2 separate regions of the Homo sapiens genome follow, and region 1 is linked to region 2. Evidence: fine-mapped expression QTL. A gene starts in region 2. The other region holds a variant in brackets. All regions are shown on one strand. Distances are between the middles of the regions. Region 1 overlaps TLN1 (talin 1). Region 2 holds the start of TLN1 (talin 1).

Region 1 (8,718 bases), 25 kb after region 2:
TTTCCACAGCCTCAAAGGCACTTTGTGGCTTCACCGAGGCAGCTGCACAGGTTATTTTCCTGAGATGGGTTCTTTGAATGGCCCCTACTTTCTTTACCCCATTTTCTCTCAGCCTGACATACCTGTAGATAAATCAAGAAGTTTATGTTTGCAAAGCCAACTCTATGGAATCTGGGTTGTCCTCCTCCTGAAGTGGAGACACTTGTCAGCAATTACTGAACACCAGCAGTTCTGATTTCTGTAATTCCTGAACCCTGGTACTTTGGTTAGGATTACACTGCCCAACCGTGAGGCCTTTTCCAGCTGGCTTTCTCAAAATATACTAATTAGCTTATACAAACTATTTTTTCATGTTATTACTACTTTCTTTTTTTTTTTTTTTTTTTTTGAGACAGCGTTTCGCTCTGTCGCCCAGGCTGAAGTGCAATGGCGTGATCTAGGCTCACTGCAAGCTCCGCCTCCCGGGTTCACGCTAGTCTCCTGCCTCAGCCTTCCAAGTAGCTGGGACTACAGGCGCTCACCACCACACCCGGCTAATTTTTTGTATTTTTTTTTTTTTTTTTAGTAAAGACAGGGTTTCACCATGTTAGCCAGGATGGTCTCGATATCCTGACTCGTGATCCACCTGCCTCGGCCTCCCAAAGTGCTGGAATTACAGGCGTGAGCCACCGCGCCTGGCCTGTAATCACTACTTTCTTTTTTTTTTTTTTTTTTTTTTTTTTTTGAGACCGAGTTTCGCTCTGTCGCCCAGGCTGGAGTGCAGTGGCGCGATCTAGACTCACTGCAAGCTCCGCCTCCCGGGTTCACGCCATTCTCCTGCCTCAGCCTCCCGTGTAGCTGGGACTACAGGCGCGCGCCACCATGCCCGGCTAATTTTTGTATTTTTAGTAGAGACGGGGTTTCACCGTGTTAGCCAGGATGGTCTCGATCTCCTGACCTCGTGATCCGCCCGTCTCGACCTCCCAAAGTGCTGGGATTACAGGCGTGAGCCACCGCGCCCGGCCAATCACTACTTTCTTAAAATAGTACTAGTGACAAAATTTCCAGTTACTTGAGTTATCACTTAACTTTGCCTTTTCCCACATTATCAAGTATAAAACTACCTATTAGCTGTAAAGTATTTTGCTTTAGTATATGAATCCTTAAAACAAACTGGCATCATAAGAGTTCACTTCAGACTATTTTCCCTGAAAGCCTACCATCCTAGCCCTCCATCTCCACCACCTCCCTGTGCCCTGTCAGAATAGGCGCCTTGCTCTAGATGGCTTGTTTGATTTTGTTTTTTTGTTTTTTTGGTTTTTTGTTTGTTTGTTTTTTGAGACGGAGTCTCGCTCTGTCGCCAGGCTGGAGTGCAGAGGCATAATCTCGGCTCACTGCAACCTCCGCCTCCCGGGTTCAAGTGATTCTCCTACCTCAGCCTCCCGAGTAGCTGGGACTACAGGCGCCTGCCACCACACCCGTCTGATTTTTGTATTTTTAGTAGAGACAGGGTTTCACTAAACCTCTTTGTTGTTTGTTTGGTTTTTTTCCCCCCACCTTCTGAAAATGCATAGAGGAAAAAGCAAAGCTACTGTGTATTGATTGAAGTATGAATCAAACATTAGGATGTTCTTTCCATCATAAAAATGGCTTTTTAACCCCTCCCTTCCTTTCCAAATATCTGACGCATGGAGGTGCTATAAATGTGAATTAGCCTAATAACCTTCATCAGTTTTGAACTGTCTTTAAAAGAGGCTTTGCTTGTGTGCACAAAGGTGTGTATTTATATATGGCTCTCAAACGTTTTACTGCTACTTACAGTAAGCCATACTTTTCACTCTAAGACCCAACATACACAAACATATCTAAATAGAGATTGGATAAAAACCCTTGCTATGTAGTTTTCCTTTTTATTAACTTTTTTAATCTTCTGAAATGCTTGAATATACTTAATGAAAACAGGAGAGTATTTTTTTTCTTCTTTATAGTGTAACCATTGTTTGCTAATGTATCTCCACTCATGGAGAACTCTGGAAAATAAGCCCTATTCTCTAAACTTACCTCTGCTCTCTTTTGTCCCTACTATCACTATTCATTTCCCACCTGCAATCTTTATTCCTCACCCCCACCCCCTTTTCTCTTCCCAGGCTGCATATCTGGTTGGTGTCTCTGACCCCAATAGCCAAGCTGGACAGCAAGGGCTAGTGGAGCCCACACAGTTTGCCCGTGCAAACCAGGCAATTCAGATGGCCTGCCAGAGTTTGGGAGAGCCTGGCTGTACCCAGGCCCAGGTAACTCAAGGGAACAGGGACCACAGGCGAGTCTGGGAAAGGGCAGACCGACCCCGTGGAGTAGAGGGAGGTGAGGCATGTGGGAAAGAGGGCAGGGACCCATCTCTGACCTTGCACACACAGCTTCTTTTTGGGTAACTGTCTTTTTCTGCCATGGGTCTCATCATTTATCAGTTACTGCTAAATTCACAACTTCTCTGTAGATGTTCGAGCTTACTCTCCCACATGCCCTCTTATGGTTTCTCCATTAGTATGTCTTTCCTCTCCCATGCCCAGTTCATCTTTGGGTATCTCTGTCTCCTAGATCTTGACTTTTCAGGTGACTCTGTTATTCCTGTTTTGACTCCTCAGGGTATTGCTCTCCATCCCCTGACCCTAAAATGGCTCCTCCTTGGGTATGTACACCTCCTTCCTGCCCTCATCGTGGCTCTTCCATGTGTCTCCTCAGGTGCTCTCTGCAGCCACCATTGTGGCTAAACACACCTCTGCACTGTGTAACAGCTGTCGCCTGGCTTCTGCCCGTACCACCAATCCTACTGCCAAGCGCCAGTTTGTACAGTCAGCCAAGGAGGTGGCCAACAGCACAGCTAATCTTGTCAAGACCATCAAGGTTCCCATTGCTTGAATTCCCAGCCTCTCCCTGACCTGTCCTATCTTCTCCCCCGAGTCCCCCAGTTATTCTCTGAAGCCTTCTACCAAATCCCCTCTGCCTGAGCCCAAGCTCTTTCTATTCAGACTGACCACCTAGCCTCTCCCCAAATCCTGTAAGTCCCAGGAAGGAGACCTGGACTTCACTTCCTATACCCCCTATGACTGCATCCCAAGTCCTGAGAGCCTCTCTGTCACTTCTAGGCGCTAGATGGGGCCTTCACAGAGGAGAACCGTGCCCAGTGCCGAGCAGCAACAGCCCCTCTGCTGGAGGCTGTGGACAATCTGAGTGCCTTTGCGTCCAACCCTGAGTTCTCCAGCATTCCTGCCCAGATCAGCCCTGAGGTGAGGCGATGTGAAGGGGGAACTGATGGGCCAGCTTATCACCTCATCTTCCAGGGACTCCTGAGACTTACCTTCCTGCCTCCCCTCTCCCCAGGGTCGGGCTGCCATGGAGCCCATTGTGATCTCTGCCAAGACAATGTTAGAGAGTGCCGGGGGACTCATCCAGACAGCCCGGGCCCTCGCAGTCAATCCCCGGGACCCCCCGAGCTGGTCGGTGCTGGCCGGCCACTCCCGTACTGTCTCAGACTCCATCAAGAAGCTAATTACAAGCATGAGGTATTGAGGGATGGGGAACCAGTGTGGCTGGGGGGCATACATTGTGGCAGAATGGAGGATGGGCACTTGAGTGCAATGAGATGGGATGGTGTTGGGAGGATACAGGGGAAGGATAGGCTGGCCTTGCAGTAGGGGATGTTCTTGGTGTTGGAGCCCATGATGTGTCTGCAGGGACAAGGCTCCAGGGCAGCTGGAGTGTGAAACGGCCATTGCAGCTCTGAACAGTTGTCTACGGGACCTAGACCAGGCTTCCCTCGCTGCAGTCAGCCAGCAGCTTGCTCCCCGTGAGGGAATCTCTCAAGAGGTGAGAGGGAGAGGGTTATATGGAAAGATGTGTCTAGGAAGAGAAATATCAGACTCAAAGAAGCTGGGGGATCAAGGAGTGGCTTCTTAGGGACATCAAAGGCTGGGATGTGCGAAGGAGGGTTAGGGTATTTGGTATGGACAGAAGAGCAGTTCTTTGTAGCCAGAGGGTCCTATTGCAGGTCACCATCAGGGCTAATGTCCACTTCCTCCCCAGGCCTTGCACACTCAGATGCTCACTGCAGTCCAAGAGATCTCCCATCTCATTGAGCCGCTGGCCAATGCTGCCCGGGCTGAAGCCTCCCAGCTGGGACACAAGGTACCTATGGAGACTCATGGGAAGTCCCAGGGAGTAGGGTGAGAGAGAGGGGACCTGACCCCTAGTCCAACCCCTTGCCTCAGGTGTCCCAGATGGCGCAGTACTTTGAGCCGCTCACCCTGGCTGCAGTGGGTGCTGCCTCCAAGACCCTGAGCCACCCGCAGCAGATGGCACTCCTGGACCAGACTAAAACATTGGCAGAGTCTGCCCTGCAGTTGCTATACACTGCCAAGGAGGCTGGTGGTAACCCAAAGGTATTGAGGGTTGGGAGGGAGGAGCTGTTACTAGCAGGAGGCTGGAGAAACAGGAACAACAGAGCTCCTCTCCTCTCCCCACAGCAAGCAGCTCACACCCAGGAAGCCCTGGAGGAGGCTGTGCAGATGATGACCGAGGCCGTAGAGGACCTGACAACAACCCTCAACGAGGCAGCCAGTGCTGCTGGGGTCGTGGGTGGCATGGTGGACTCCATCACCCAGGCCATCAACCAGGTTAGAGTCTTGGGGTGCCTTTGGACACTGAGGCTACCCTGGGCCAGAGCCTCCAAGCACAGTGGCAGAGACCCTAACAGTCTTTCCCTTTCCCTATCCTCCCCCCTCAGCTAGATGAAGGACCAATGGGTGAACCAGAAGGTTCCTTCGTGGATTACCAAACAACTATGGTGCGGACAGCCAAGGCCATTGCAGTGACCGTTCAGGAGATGGTGAGTTTGGGCGAGTCCCAGAGGACTGCCCTCGGAGAGCTGACTTTGGATATAACTTCACTCGTTCCATTATCACCAGGTTACCAAGTCAAACACCAGCCCAGAGGAGCTGGGCCCTCTTGCTAACCAGCTGACCAGTGACTATGGCCGTCTGGCCTCGGAGGCCAAGCCTGCAGCGGTGGCTGCTGAAAATGAAGAGGTAAACGTGGAGGCAACTCTGCCCTGCCCCCTGCCCCTTGTTCCTGATGTGTCAGTGTCTAGGGCTGTCCCACCCCCACCCTCTCTGGTCTTTCATAGAAAGGGGAACAGCCTCAGGGCCACTCTGCTGAAGACTAGTGAGGCTCTGGGTAGGGACAGAGGATCAAAGCCTTCAGTCACAGGTACAAAG[G/C]AAACAGCTCAGAATCTGGAGCCTTCCCGGGCCTGCCTTTCTGGCTTCTGCCGACCCTCATCTGGGCCTACAGCTGCTTCTCTGTTGTGCTGCCAGTCCATGTTCTTGTTCTTTCTTGTTGCAAACTCATGAAGCTCTTCCTTACCTAAGCCTCTAGCTTTCCAAGAAAGCAAGTAATTGGATCTTAGCAGGACACATGTAATGCCCATCCTTAAAACCCTCCATAACCCCATACAGGCCACATGGTAATCCACGGCCCTCTGATTCCCACATTCAAGCATAAAGTGCTCCTCCCCTTCTCCCCACTGTGCTTAACACAATCCTCACCACTTAGTGCCTGCGTGCTACTATTTTCTGTGTGTAGGAGGTGACCTTCTGCCTAAAGGATATGCAACCGGAAACGTCCTTGTGCTGGGAACCTTCTCTCTCTGCTTCTTTAGTCTACAATGCATGTTTTTTTCTATGTCCTTAGTGACTTTTCCAAGCACAGTGAAGGTACCCTGAGTGCCCCTTGTAAAATCCATCTGTCTTTCCCTTGGCTCACAGATAGGTTCCCATATCAAACACCGGGTACAGGAGCTGGGCCATGGCTGTGCCGCTCTGGTCACCAAGGCAGGCGCCCTGCAGTGCAGCCCCAGTGATGCCTACACCAAGAAGGAGCTCATAGAGTGTGCCCGGAGAGTCTCTGAGAAGGTGACGGTGCTCATCCCTGCAGATGGTGGGACTGCCTCCAAACTCTGTAGCCTTTGCCATCCTCCTCCAGCCCTCTCAGCCCTCTCCTGTTGTCACTTCTCCCAGGCATGGGCAACCTTTCCATTTCACATGGCACCTTCCACAGTCACCATGTGACATTCCCTACCCAGGTCTCCCACGTCCTGGCTGCGCTCCAGGCTGGGAATCGTGGCACCCAGGCCTGCATCACAGCAGCCAGCGCTGTGTCTGGTATCATTGCTGACCTCGACACCACCATCATGTTCGCCACTGCTGGCACGCTCAATCGTGAGGGTACTGAAACTTTCGCTGACCACCGGTAAGACAGGAACTGGGCCTAAGGGAGGCAGACAGGTCGGGGCACGGGGCTGGAAGAGGCAGGATAGCATTCGCTGGAATGGGGAAGACCTGGACCAGGCACCTTGGACGGGCTGGAGCGGGTAGGGGAGATCTGACTAAGCTGGGCCCTCCCTCAGGGAGGGCATCCTGAAGACTGCGAAGGTGCTGGTGGAGGACACCAAGGTCCTGGTGCAAAACGCAGCTGGGAGCCAGGAGAAGTTGGCGCAGGCTGCCCAGTCCTCCGTGGCGACCATCACCCGCCTCGCTGATGTGGTCAAGCTGGGTGCAGCCAGCCTGGGAGCTGAGGACCCTGAGACCCAGGTAGTGACCTGATGCCCCTAATTCCGGCTGGAATCACTTCCTGTCCCGCTTCTTCCTCCCATAGACCAGAGCCAACGCTTTCCCACACAGGTGGTACTAATCAACGCAGTGAAAGATGTAGCCAAAGCCCTGGGAGACCTCATCAGTGCAACGAAGGCTGCAGCTGGCAAAGTTGGAGATGACCCTGCTGTGTGGCAGCTAAAGAACTCTGCCAAGGTTGGAGAGAATGAGAGCAACATCAGGAGGGGCACTGGATTAACATACTTCCTCCTGTTCCTTAAAATCATTCCTCTTCACTCCTCTGATACCTCCAGGTGATGGTGACCAATGTGACATCATTGCTTAAGACAGTAAAAGCCGTGGAAGATGAGGCCACCAAAGGCACTCGGGCCCTGGAGGCAACCACAGAACACATACGGCAGGAGCTGGCGGTGAGTGAGAGTCTGGGGCATCAGTGACTAGGGTCAGAGAGAGGGATCCTGAAAGCCTGTGAACCTGTGCCACACATATACTCACAGCTGGAGTCACACACAGTCTTCTCTCTCATCTATCGCCAGACTTTTTTTTTGAGAAGGGTCTTGCTCTGTAGCCATCCTCCTCCAGCCTTCTCAGCCCTCTCCTCTTGTCATTTCTCCCAGGTGTGGGTGACCTTTCCATTTCACATGGCATCTTCCTCAGTCACCATGTGACTTCCCCTACCCCAGCTCTCCCACACCCTCCTTCTGGAGTGCAGTGGCGTGATCTCAGCTCACTACAACCTCCACCTCCCAGGTTCAAGTGCTTCTCATGCCTCAGCCTCCTGAGTCACTGGGAATACAGGTGCATACCATGCTGGCTAGTTTTTGTATTTTTAGTAGAGATGGGGTTTCACCATGTTGACCAGGCTGGTCTCGAACTCCTGGCCTCAAGTGATCCACCCGCCTTGGCCTCCCAAAGTGCTGGGATTACACTCATGAGCCACTGTGCCAGTGAGCTACATTCATGTCTGTCCCCTACCCACTTGTTTATTCCTTAGCATGTGACAACTGTATTTTTTCACCACCCTCCCACTTTCTCCAGTCACTAGTGGCCTCTTCTTAGTTGCTACATTCAGTGGCCACTTCTTGGCCTTCATCCTCTTTGAATATTTCGAAAGCATCTGACTGTGTTAACAAGCCTCTCTTTGAAATTCTTTCTTCTGCTGGGCATGGTGGCTCACGCCAGCACTTTGGGAGGCCAGCGGGTGTAATCCCAGCACTTTGGGAGGCTGAGGCGGGTGGATCACAAGGTCGGGAGTTCGAGACCAGCCTGGCCAATATGGTGAAACCCCGTCTCTACTAAAAATACAAAAATTAGCTGGGCGTGGTGGCACGCGCCTGTAGTCCCAGCTGCTTGGGAGGCTAAGGCAGGAGAATCGCTGGAACCCGGGAGGCAGAGGTTGCAGTGAGCCAAGATGGCGCCACTGCACTCCAGCCTGGGCAACAGAGTGAGACTCCATCTCAAAAAAAAACAAAAAAGAAAAAAAATGAAATTCTTTCTTCCCTTGGCCTAGATACTGGCTTTTCTCTTGTTTCTCGAACGTCATTGAATCACCTTTAACTTAGTAAATGTGGAGGCCTTCCCAGGGTTGTACAAATAGTCTTCCTTCTCTCTTCTCTTCTTTGGCAAGTTTAACCACTTTCATTATTATTCTGTAAGAAGCAGACATCCAGTTCTGAGTTGAGTTATTTTCAACTGCCTGTTTGACATCACCACCTAGATGCAGTGCCTCCGAACCATGACATGGTCCTCCTAATGGTGGGAACACCCTTGCAGTCATGAAGATTCCACCTCAGTCATCTTTGACTTCACCATCTTAGCCACCATATCCAGGCTGTTGCCACGTCCTTTCATTCCTCCTCCCTGGTTCCCTGTCCGCACTCTGGTTCACACTTCCATACTCTCCCGCAATTTGGCTGTGGCACCAGTTTTCTCCCTGGTCTCCCTGCTTCTGGTCCCTGCCACTCTCCTCTCTCCCTACTCATCTTTCTAATTTCTAAATGCATCTTTCTAAGGTTCTGTTTTCACTTTTACTTGAAGATGTCCAAGTTGGAACTCTTGACTTTCTGCCTCCCATACC
Region 2 (8,718 bases):
CCAGCTCATGTGTGTTAAGAGTTCCAGCCCAAGATGACTATGCTGGACTAGTCCTCTTGCCTAGGATGCTTTCTCTCTGCCTAGAATGCTTTCCCAACCCAACCCCAGAATCCTAACTACTATGAAAGCCCATGACGTCTTTCTTACCCCCTTTCTTTTTCTTGGTACTTAACTTATTCTTAGTTACTTGTAAATGTATTCCTCACTACTGGGAGCTTCTTGGAATCAGAGACCTAGTGAAGGCAGCTGCCCAGTTAGAAATCAAGTGTAGGGCAGGGGAAAGAGTGAGAAAGCATTAAATGAGGGGCATAGGAAGGGAATGGTTTGGAGGGATACTTACAAATTCTGTTCCTCCAGAAGCTGTACTTTGTTCTGAAGCTCCATATTCTGGGCTGTGTATTTCAAGACCCTGGGGGAAATAACAAAGATACGGGGATATGGCCTGTATCCTCCCTTCAAAAACCTAATACTTACAACAGAGTCCCTCTCCCTTTCATACCTGCTCTCTAAACCCCCAACATACACCTTCTTTTTCCTGCGGCTCTCTTGAGCAGATCTTTTATTTCGAATCTTCCTCCGCACACGTTTCAGAATTTGTTCCTCTGTCTGAAAGGAAACAGGGAAAGGGATATCATTAGAGGAACTCTAGAAAAAGGAGTTGAAACGCAACTGAGATCAATCTCTTTCCAATACAGAAATCCCTTCTACAGCTTCCCTGACCAACAGGCATTCAGATTCTTTCTGAATGCCTCCACGGACCAGGTGTTAACCCTAACAAGCCAGACCATTTTAAACTATTAAAAAAAAAACTGGTCGGGCAGTATTCAGGCGACGTGGCTCATGCCTGTAATCCCAACACTTTGGGGAGCTAAGACAGGAGGACCGGTTGAGCCCAGGAGTTTGAGACCAGCCTGAGCAACATAGTGAGACCTTGTCTCTACTAAAAATAAAAAATTAGCCGGGTGTGGTGGCACATGCCTGTGGTCCCTGCTACTCAGGAGACTGAGGAAGGAGGATCACTTGAGCCTGAGAGGTTGAAGCTGTAGTGAGCCATGATCTCGCCACTATTCTCCAACCTGGGCAATAAAGCAAGAACCTGTCTTCAAACAAGCAAATAAAAACTTCCTTATCCTGAACCAACAGCTGCCTCCTTATAATTTCTATCCGTTGGACTTACCTAGTATCTCTGGGGCCAAATAGAATAAACCCTGTTTAGCTATTTTAAGGCACTTAACATTTCCTCAGAGCTTAAAGAAAAAAAAAAAGACAAAATTTTTAACTCATCTTCTCAGGATAGACTGCATCCTCTTAGTATCTGTCAAAGATGTGCTCTAGCCAGTATCAAGGAAAGCAAGAGAGTGACTTGTAGAGACAATAACTCTATTGCTACAGTTTCCAAATCCCATGAACTTTCTTAGTAGCCACATCACACTGCTGACTCATCTTGTACTTTGAAGAAATTAAAATTCTTCACTTTGGGAGGCCAAGGTGGGTAGATCACTTGAGCCCAGGAGTTCGAGACCAGCCTGGCAACAAGGCAAAACCCCATTTCTACTAAAAATACCAAAAAAAAAATTGCCGGGCAGGGTAGTGTGCACCTGTAGTCTCAGCTACTCGGGAGGCTGAGGTGGGAGAATCACCTAAGCCCAGAAAGTCAAGGCTGCAGTGAGCCATGATCACATCAGTGCACTCCAGCCTGGGCAACAGAGCAAGACCTTGTCAAAAAATATATATATATTCCTGTAACCTTTCTATTAATGAGCACTGATTTCATCATAGTACCCCAGTACTCTGCTTGTGAAGTTGCCACTCATTGCTTAAAACTGAAAACTAAGGATTTTACATTTATTCATGTACTGCTTAGTCCAACCCTGTTGAACTCTCTAAACAGTTCTACCATTCAGCAAGAGGTGGATTACTATGAAGCCAACGAAGTGTCAAGGCCCTTCACTTACACAGTCCTTTCCAAGGCCCAATACTAATGTTGCACTGATAATTTTGAGTTATTTTTTTAACAGAACACCAAAATTTGTATAAGCCCAACAAAAACGAGGATCTGCCCTTGCATCTGGCATATTGTGTACCTGCCTCAACTTCCTATTAGCAATAAATCTACTAAGTTTCTCACCTCAATCCTTTTTTAAAGTTATTGATATAAAGTTAACAGAATTTGCCTACTTGGGACTTTTAATCCCTTTTCAGCCTTTGTTCAACCAATGAGAGTCTTACCTTAGTGAGAGGAAGTGTCTCAGGCAGAATAAGCCCCTCCTTCTCCAATAGACTCTTCTCCTCATCTGTCAGTACTAGCCTAGCAATCTCCTAGGGTAACAAGAAAGTGGACGGCAGTTGCATGGGGATGTCAGAGAGGAATGGGGAATCCTGCCCCCACCTGGGGAATGTGAGAGTAATCTCCTGAAAATCAAGTCAAGTACCTGCTCTGCCAGCTCCTCCATATGCTGTGGAGTCATCTGGGTCCCCTCTTTTCTACAGCTCTCACTCTCTGCAAAAGGGAAAGTATGAATAGCCAGGCCCATGAACCCTGTCCTCCCCGCAAACTTATTTCAGACTCACCTAGATCCATAGAGACAGTTTCCCGTGGGAGGGAGTAGGTGTGGTCATGGTGGACAAGGCAGGGGTTGGAGGAGCTGAGAATGTTCAACGACGCTGGGGGACTCAGCAGGGAGCACAGCAAATCATCTACTTCCCAGTCGCTCGGTACCTGCGCAGGGTTCCAATGAACAGGCCTTGACCTTATCACCATCACCTGACTTCATGGACATCCCACGCTTTCCCCAGTCAGAACCCCAACCTACCTCAGAAAGCGGCAGCGCCCAGTCCAGTGGGGCCCTCACGGCCTCATCGGGTGCCGTCCCCAAATCTCCACTTTCCTCTAGCAGGAAGGCCAGCAGGTCTTGGTCACCAGCATCCAATTCCAGCTCCATTTGGGACAACTACGGAAAGGGTGGGCCACCGGGCCCCAACGTCCGAAGCCCAGACACGAGCCCCAGGCCAGCTGTAGGCCTCGGGCACCTATCCACTGTCCCTCTACGGCCGGGATTCCCCGCCGGCGGCTTTCCATAGCCCTCTCCGGACCCGCCTCCCAGGCTCAATTCTCCTCAGCCTCCAACGCAGCGAAAGTGACGCACCCCACCCCGTGGCACTGTGGGACTTGGAGTTCCCTCCAACTGAGAAGAGGCTTGGGTGCAGCGCCACGTCCCAGGGGCTATGCAAATGTAGGGGACGGCCCTGCTGCCGCCTCGCACCCCGAGGGCGGGGGTTCCGGGGCTCCGGCTCCGCCTTCTACCCCAAGCTAGAAAAAGGAAGAGTTCTAGCCTGAAAGGGAACTCGGGCGTCGTCCTGGCGTCCTCTCCGGATTGCGCCGCACCCTCGCTTCCTGCCAGGGAGGGGCTGCCGGGCTTTGGCGGCTCCCGAGCATCGAGAACGGGGCCAGAGCAGCTTCCTGCCTGCCCCCCGCGACCATAGAGCGCGGGCCCAGGGCGCCGCCCGCGGGTGGGGGACGTTCCCAGGACGGAAGTGGCCGAGAGAGTGTCGAAGGGAGGGCGAGGCCGGAGCCCGAGGGCGACCCGAGAAGCGGCGGGGCGGCGGGCCGGCGGGCGGGGCGCAGAGCCAGGCAGCGCAGGTAGGCCAGACCGGGCCGGGCGGGGGCCTTAGGGTGGGGCCGCGGGGCCTGGCCCCGGGGCGGGCGGGCCCTGCCTCTCTTGCGTGTCCGGTTCGGGTCCTATTAGTTGGAGAGGTCAGCGTCCAGCGCATCTCGGCTTGAGCTCGGCGTGAAGTAGGCCGTCTTGGGGAAGACAGGCCTTTCCTGGGAGCAGTCCTATGTCTGGGATAGGCTTTGGGGAGCGTGAGGAGTCGGGTGGCAGCGGGGCGCAGGGCGGGGACGGGCTTTGGTGTTAGCTGATAGCGGGCATGTGGGTAGGAAAGCTTTGGGTGAGTTGGGGATTAGGTGGGGTCCGTTTAGGAATCAAGGGTCGCTATAGGAGTTAAAAGCTGGGGTTAAAACTTAAGAGTTAGTGTGAGTCAGGTCCGTTTTAGATAGGTAAGGTTTAGATTACGGTCATTATCTTGTTTGCTGGGATGGCCATCATACGTCATAATTTGAGTTCAGGGTCAGGTTAAGGGTCAACAAACAACAGGAATCAGGTTAGAGCTTGTTTGAGGGATTAAAGAATGTTGGCATGGTCGGTGTTAAGGATAAACAGTGAAAGCGTGAGTTAGGAATCAAATTATAAATGAACTTTAGGCTTAGGGGTCAACATTTAGGGTTAACATCAGGGGATTTGGTGCTAAAGGCAAAACTTAGATCAGTTTCAGGGATCAGGGATTGGATATGAGTCTGTGCTAGGAAAGGGATGAATGTCCAAGCCGGTACTGGGAATCAGGAAACAAATTAGAGGTGGGGTTAATGTTAGGAATTTGGGGCAGCTTTAGGGGTTGTGGTTTGAGGCTAGCATAGTTGACCTTGAGCAGATAAAATTTAAGAGGTTGGCAGTAGGTAAATGCCCTTCTTTTGTAGGGAAATCCTTTATTCCTATGTAGTTACAGGGGCTTCTTTTTACCCAGAGAGATAAACTAATTTCAGGCTAGCGTTCTGGCTTTAGCTAGAATTGCAGGCATCTGGGATTCCAGCTTCTTTATTCCATTCTCTAAGCCCAAGGCCCTTGCTGTGGCCACCACAGTTAGGGGACAGAGATTCTGGACTGTGTTGTTTACAGACAACATAGGTGGGAAATAGGGACCCAGGATGTACAAGGCCTAGTCACAAGTTGGGGACTGCCTAGGGAAGAAGGAGCTGATGACTATGGGGGAAGCTAACCAAGGAATCACTGTTGCCATGGGAGAAGGGAATAACTGAATCCCCTGAAAGTTTAGCCCTGCTTCTCCCACTTCACTTGTTCTCTTGGTATTAAGCCCTCCTCTCCAACTCTCATCCCTGACTCTGCATTTCACACCCATCCTGCCTATCCCCTTACAAAATACTTCCCTTGCCTTTAACTCTCCCATGCTCATCTTATCATCCGTTCCCATCCTTAGTTCTACCTCCCTCACCAACCTTTAATCCGCACATCCTACCTGAATTTACCCTCATCAAAACCTGAGCTTTCCCATCATTTTAAATTACTCTCCTACCATTTTCACCCAGTCATGTACCTACATTCCACCTGGTCATCTGCTGAATACCCTACTCCCATCCCCTGCTGTGTGTCACCCCCTGGATCTAAGCCTCTTTTAATTTCTTGGACCATTTGTAGATCCCCTTCCCCCACTCCCCAACAGAAAAGAGGAAACGAGACCCAAAGAGGAAACTGGGTCTTGCTGATCCCACGCCCAGCCAGGCCACTGACCACACCCCCACTTCACTCCCAGCCTGACCCTGCCACTGACCACAGCACTATCCTCTACTCAGCCTGACCCAGCCACTGGCTGTACCCCATCCCCCATCCCAGCTCCAGCTTTACTTAGACATTGCCAATGTCCCTTCACTTTCCCACCCCCACCCCAGTCTGATTTAGTGACTGACCACAGGCCCAGCTCTTCTCAACCTCCTATAGCCTGACCTGGCCTCTGACCTCACCCCATCATTCCCTGACTTAGCCACCATCCATGTAATCATTCCCCTTCCCCCAACCTGATGCAGTGACTGGTCATATATGTATCTTATGTATATGTATTTTTCCAAACACCATCATCACCAGCATTCTTTTTCTACACCCTGTCTTCTCATCCTTTTTCTACACCCTGTCTTCCCCATTCCCAGCCTGATGCAGTCACTAACCCAACCCCATCTGCCCCTAGTGGCTACTAATCATATACTCATACCCTTTTTCCCCACAGCCTAACCACATCCCGTAACCACAGCCTCATCCTCACATTCTCTGCCCAACCTGATCCTTTCCCCTCTTCCCAATTCGTCGCCTAAACTCAAGCTGCCCCAGCCGCTAAAGTGGCTGCTGATGATAGGAAGCTGTGGGACTCTAACCTGTCTACCTTAGTAGTTATTAGGTCCTGTCATTTCTACCTCCCCAAACTTGTTCTGAGTGACATCTTCCTCAATGCCATTCCAACTCCGGCTTCATTACCTTTAATTTGTACTAATACAGTGTCCTTCTAACTAATCTCCAAGGTAACTGCCAGAGTTATTTTTCTAAAATCCAGTTCCGGTTATGTCTCTTCTCTGCTCAAAGACTCCCTTGGCTTCCTTTTGTCCTCCAATAAGTAAAATTCCTCATACCCCTCTCCAGTCTTCCTCTGCCTTTCCATCCTAACCCTGACTTCCCCACCACTGCTCCCTTGCAGGTACCCCTGTGCTTCAACAGCCTGCCTGCTCACTTCCCTGAATGCTCCTCCACGATTTACTGCTTCTCCATCTTTGCTTATGCTATTTCTCTGCCTGGAGTGAAAACTACCCCTGACACATCTCCAGCTGGCTGGCGTAGTGGAGAAAGCTTGGGCTTTGCAGTCAGAAACCTGGGTTCGGATCCTGGCTTCACAACTTATTATTTGGAGAAGTATTTGAACAAGTATTTAACATCTTTGAGTCTGTTTTCTGATCTGTAAAAATGGAAATAATGACACCTACTGTAAGGATTAAATGAAATTATGTATACAATGCAAGTGACATAGTCAATAAATGGCAGATCACTATTGTTTTTTATTATCTCTATTTTTTAAAATTCTAGCTTCAAATGATACTTATCATGGAGACTTTTTGGTTCCCCTTCCCTGACCTAAAGGGATCTCTCTGAGCACACACCTTTTGGCTCTTACCACATCCTGCCCTCCGTTGTGATTCTGTACTTGGCTTATTCACTCATCTCGTGGACTGGGAGCCCTTTGAACTCAAAGGCTAGGTCTTACTGATCTTGGTCCCCAGCCACTGAAAGTTTGGCCCAGGGTCTTCCCCACAGCTGGCCCTCAAGGAATGCTTGCTGGGTGAATGGAGAATGTCTACATAATGGGAGGAGAGACACTGGGTGCCGGGTGTGCTTGTTATGGAGGTTATCTGTGCAAAAGCTGTGTGCATAGGATGGGCTCCCTAGGAGAAGATAATGCAGTCGTGATGGGATCTGTGTGGGGGCTGTGTGATTGAGATAATGTGTGTATAGAGAGAGTAAGGTAGCTTTGTGGGAAAGAGCTCTGCCTAGGCTGGGGTGCATCTGGGGAGAATGAGTGTGCATTTGAGTATGGAGGGGCTGTACCGGGGGAAGTTCTGTGCAGCCCTTCAGCTAGCTGCCCAGTCCAGCTCTAAATGAGTCTCCAGCAGCCTGAGGCCGGATATGTCAGTCTCACCCACAGCCCTCCCCCACTGCCAGCGGTTGCGGACTCAGAGGCCAAATTTGGTAACAGACTGAGTGTTACTCCCCCATCCCTCTTATATTCTGACTGTCTTAAGCTCTTTCCTTTTGTTCCTGTCTGTAACTCCCTATCTTTCTGCAATTCCCCTTGTGGGTATCTGCTCTGACTATATTCTCCAAGTACCCCAACTTTCTTAGCTCCAATACTCTTACATTCCATTCCTTGCTGGGATTTGACCTCCTGTCCTCCATTCCCCCCCTCCAATTGCCCAACTTCTTTGGAATGCATCGCAGGAATGTATTGAGGGAGGAGGAGTTCCCTGGGAGGGGGACACGGCAGTGGGGAGTTGCTGTTCCATCAAACACAATGGAAAAGGGAGCAAAGTTCTCAGGCCAAAGGAGGAATGAGCTAGCTTCTACTCATACTTGTAGCAGCCTTGTTCTTTGCCACCACCACCCACAATTCACTGATCAGTTCTTCGCGTCCACACACCCTCTTGTAGCTGTGTGAATATCCACTCTGGACCAGCTGGGGAGTAAGGGTAGGCATGACTCAGCTCCCTTATCGGGGTCTCACCAGAGGCTTCCGTGCTTGAGGAGGAAGGGGGTGTCTAAGTGTCCAGAGGAAATGGGGGGAGACATGCAGTTTCAGCTTAGTGTGAAGGGTCCTTTCAGTCCTGCTTCTTGGCTCCACAGACTCCTCCAGCTTCTCGGATCCACCAGCCCAGCCCTCATTCTTTCATGGTCAGCAACCCCATAGCCAGGTCTGTCCAGCTGGGACACAAGCGGATAGTAATAAGGTTGGGCAAAGTGCCCCAGGAGTGGGGAGGGGGCAGAGAGCTGGAACTGGGGAGACTGGGAGGGTCCTCTCTTATTGGGGAGTAAAGACAGAGAGCTGTGGTTCTTCTCTTTTGAGACTCTGGACTGCTTGTAAGGTCAGAAATGGTCTATCTGCCACTTGGTACCAGACCGCTGATCTAGACCATTTTCATACCTGCCTCCTGTCTCTTGTTTCTACTTAGATTTTCAATTCTCCTCATCCCATCTCTCCTAACTTCTTTACCCTCTACCCCTTCTTAACTTCCCTGGCTTTCAAATGCCTTCTGTATCCTAACACCCCCATCTCTGCTTTCCAGCCTTCCCCTCTCACCCTGCTTTTCCCCATTTGAGGCTTGTAGTTTGCCAGGAGGGGAATGGGCAGCTTGTATTTGCCCATTCTCTTAGTTAAGAGGCACCCAATCCCTGTACCAAGCAGGGGCACATCAGCAGCAGCCGGGCAGACTTGTCCTCTTGCAGCCTGTGCGCCACCTGCTGCCTCCAGTGCCTCCTCTAGCCTGCTGAGAGGGGGTGCCAGGAGGGTGGAAGAAGGTGGGGTAGGACTAGTATTCTGAGCTGCACTGAAAAT

Evidence for each region. PIP is the estimated chance that this variant, and not a neighbour inherited with it, causes the effect.
Region 1: its variant is fine-mapped to the expression of TLN1 in whole blood (TOPMed, PIP 0.93).

Annotation. Positions count from the first base shown.
Region 1 is chr9:35,701,893-35,710,610 of GRCh38, reverse strand. TLN1 (talin 1) reads left to right here. Exons shown (of 57, transcript NM_006289.4): 33 at 1-50; 34 at 2,127-2,270; 35 at 2,719-2,880; 36 at 3,123-3,263; 37 at 3,358-3,539; 38 at 3,711-3,843; 39 at 4,060-4,161; 40 at 4,245-4,415; 41 at 4,500-4,649; 42 at 4,760-4,861; 43 at 4,941-5,060; 44 at 5,796-5,942; 45 at 6,113-6,279; 46 at 6,437-6,620; 2 more. Among named protein-coding and RNA genes, the nearest start is that of MIR6852, 4.5 kb to the left of the region's middle. The variant G/C (reference allele first, on the strand shown) is at 5,250.
Region 2 is chr9:35,726,997-35,735,714 of GRCh38, reverse strand. TLN1 (talin 1) reads left to right here and starts at 3,520. Exons shown (of 57, transcript NM_006289.4): 1 at 3,520-3,640. CREB3 (cAMP responsive element binding protein 3) reads right to left here and starts at 3,049. Exons shown (of 9, transcript NM_006368.5): 1 at 2,814-3,049; 2 at 2,572-2,719; 3 at 2,433-2,500; 4 at 2,230-2,319; 5 at 500-606; 6 at 341-409. The coding sequence starts at 2,942. It overlaps MIR6853 (microRNA 6853), which reads right to left and starts at 2,793; the gene lies at 2,720-2,793. RefSeq lists enhancers at 2,924-3,013, 3,064-3,113, 3,914-3,963, 5,353-5,412, 7,808-8,521 and 1 more and silencers at 3,244-3,403, 3,444-3,733, 8,509-8,718.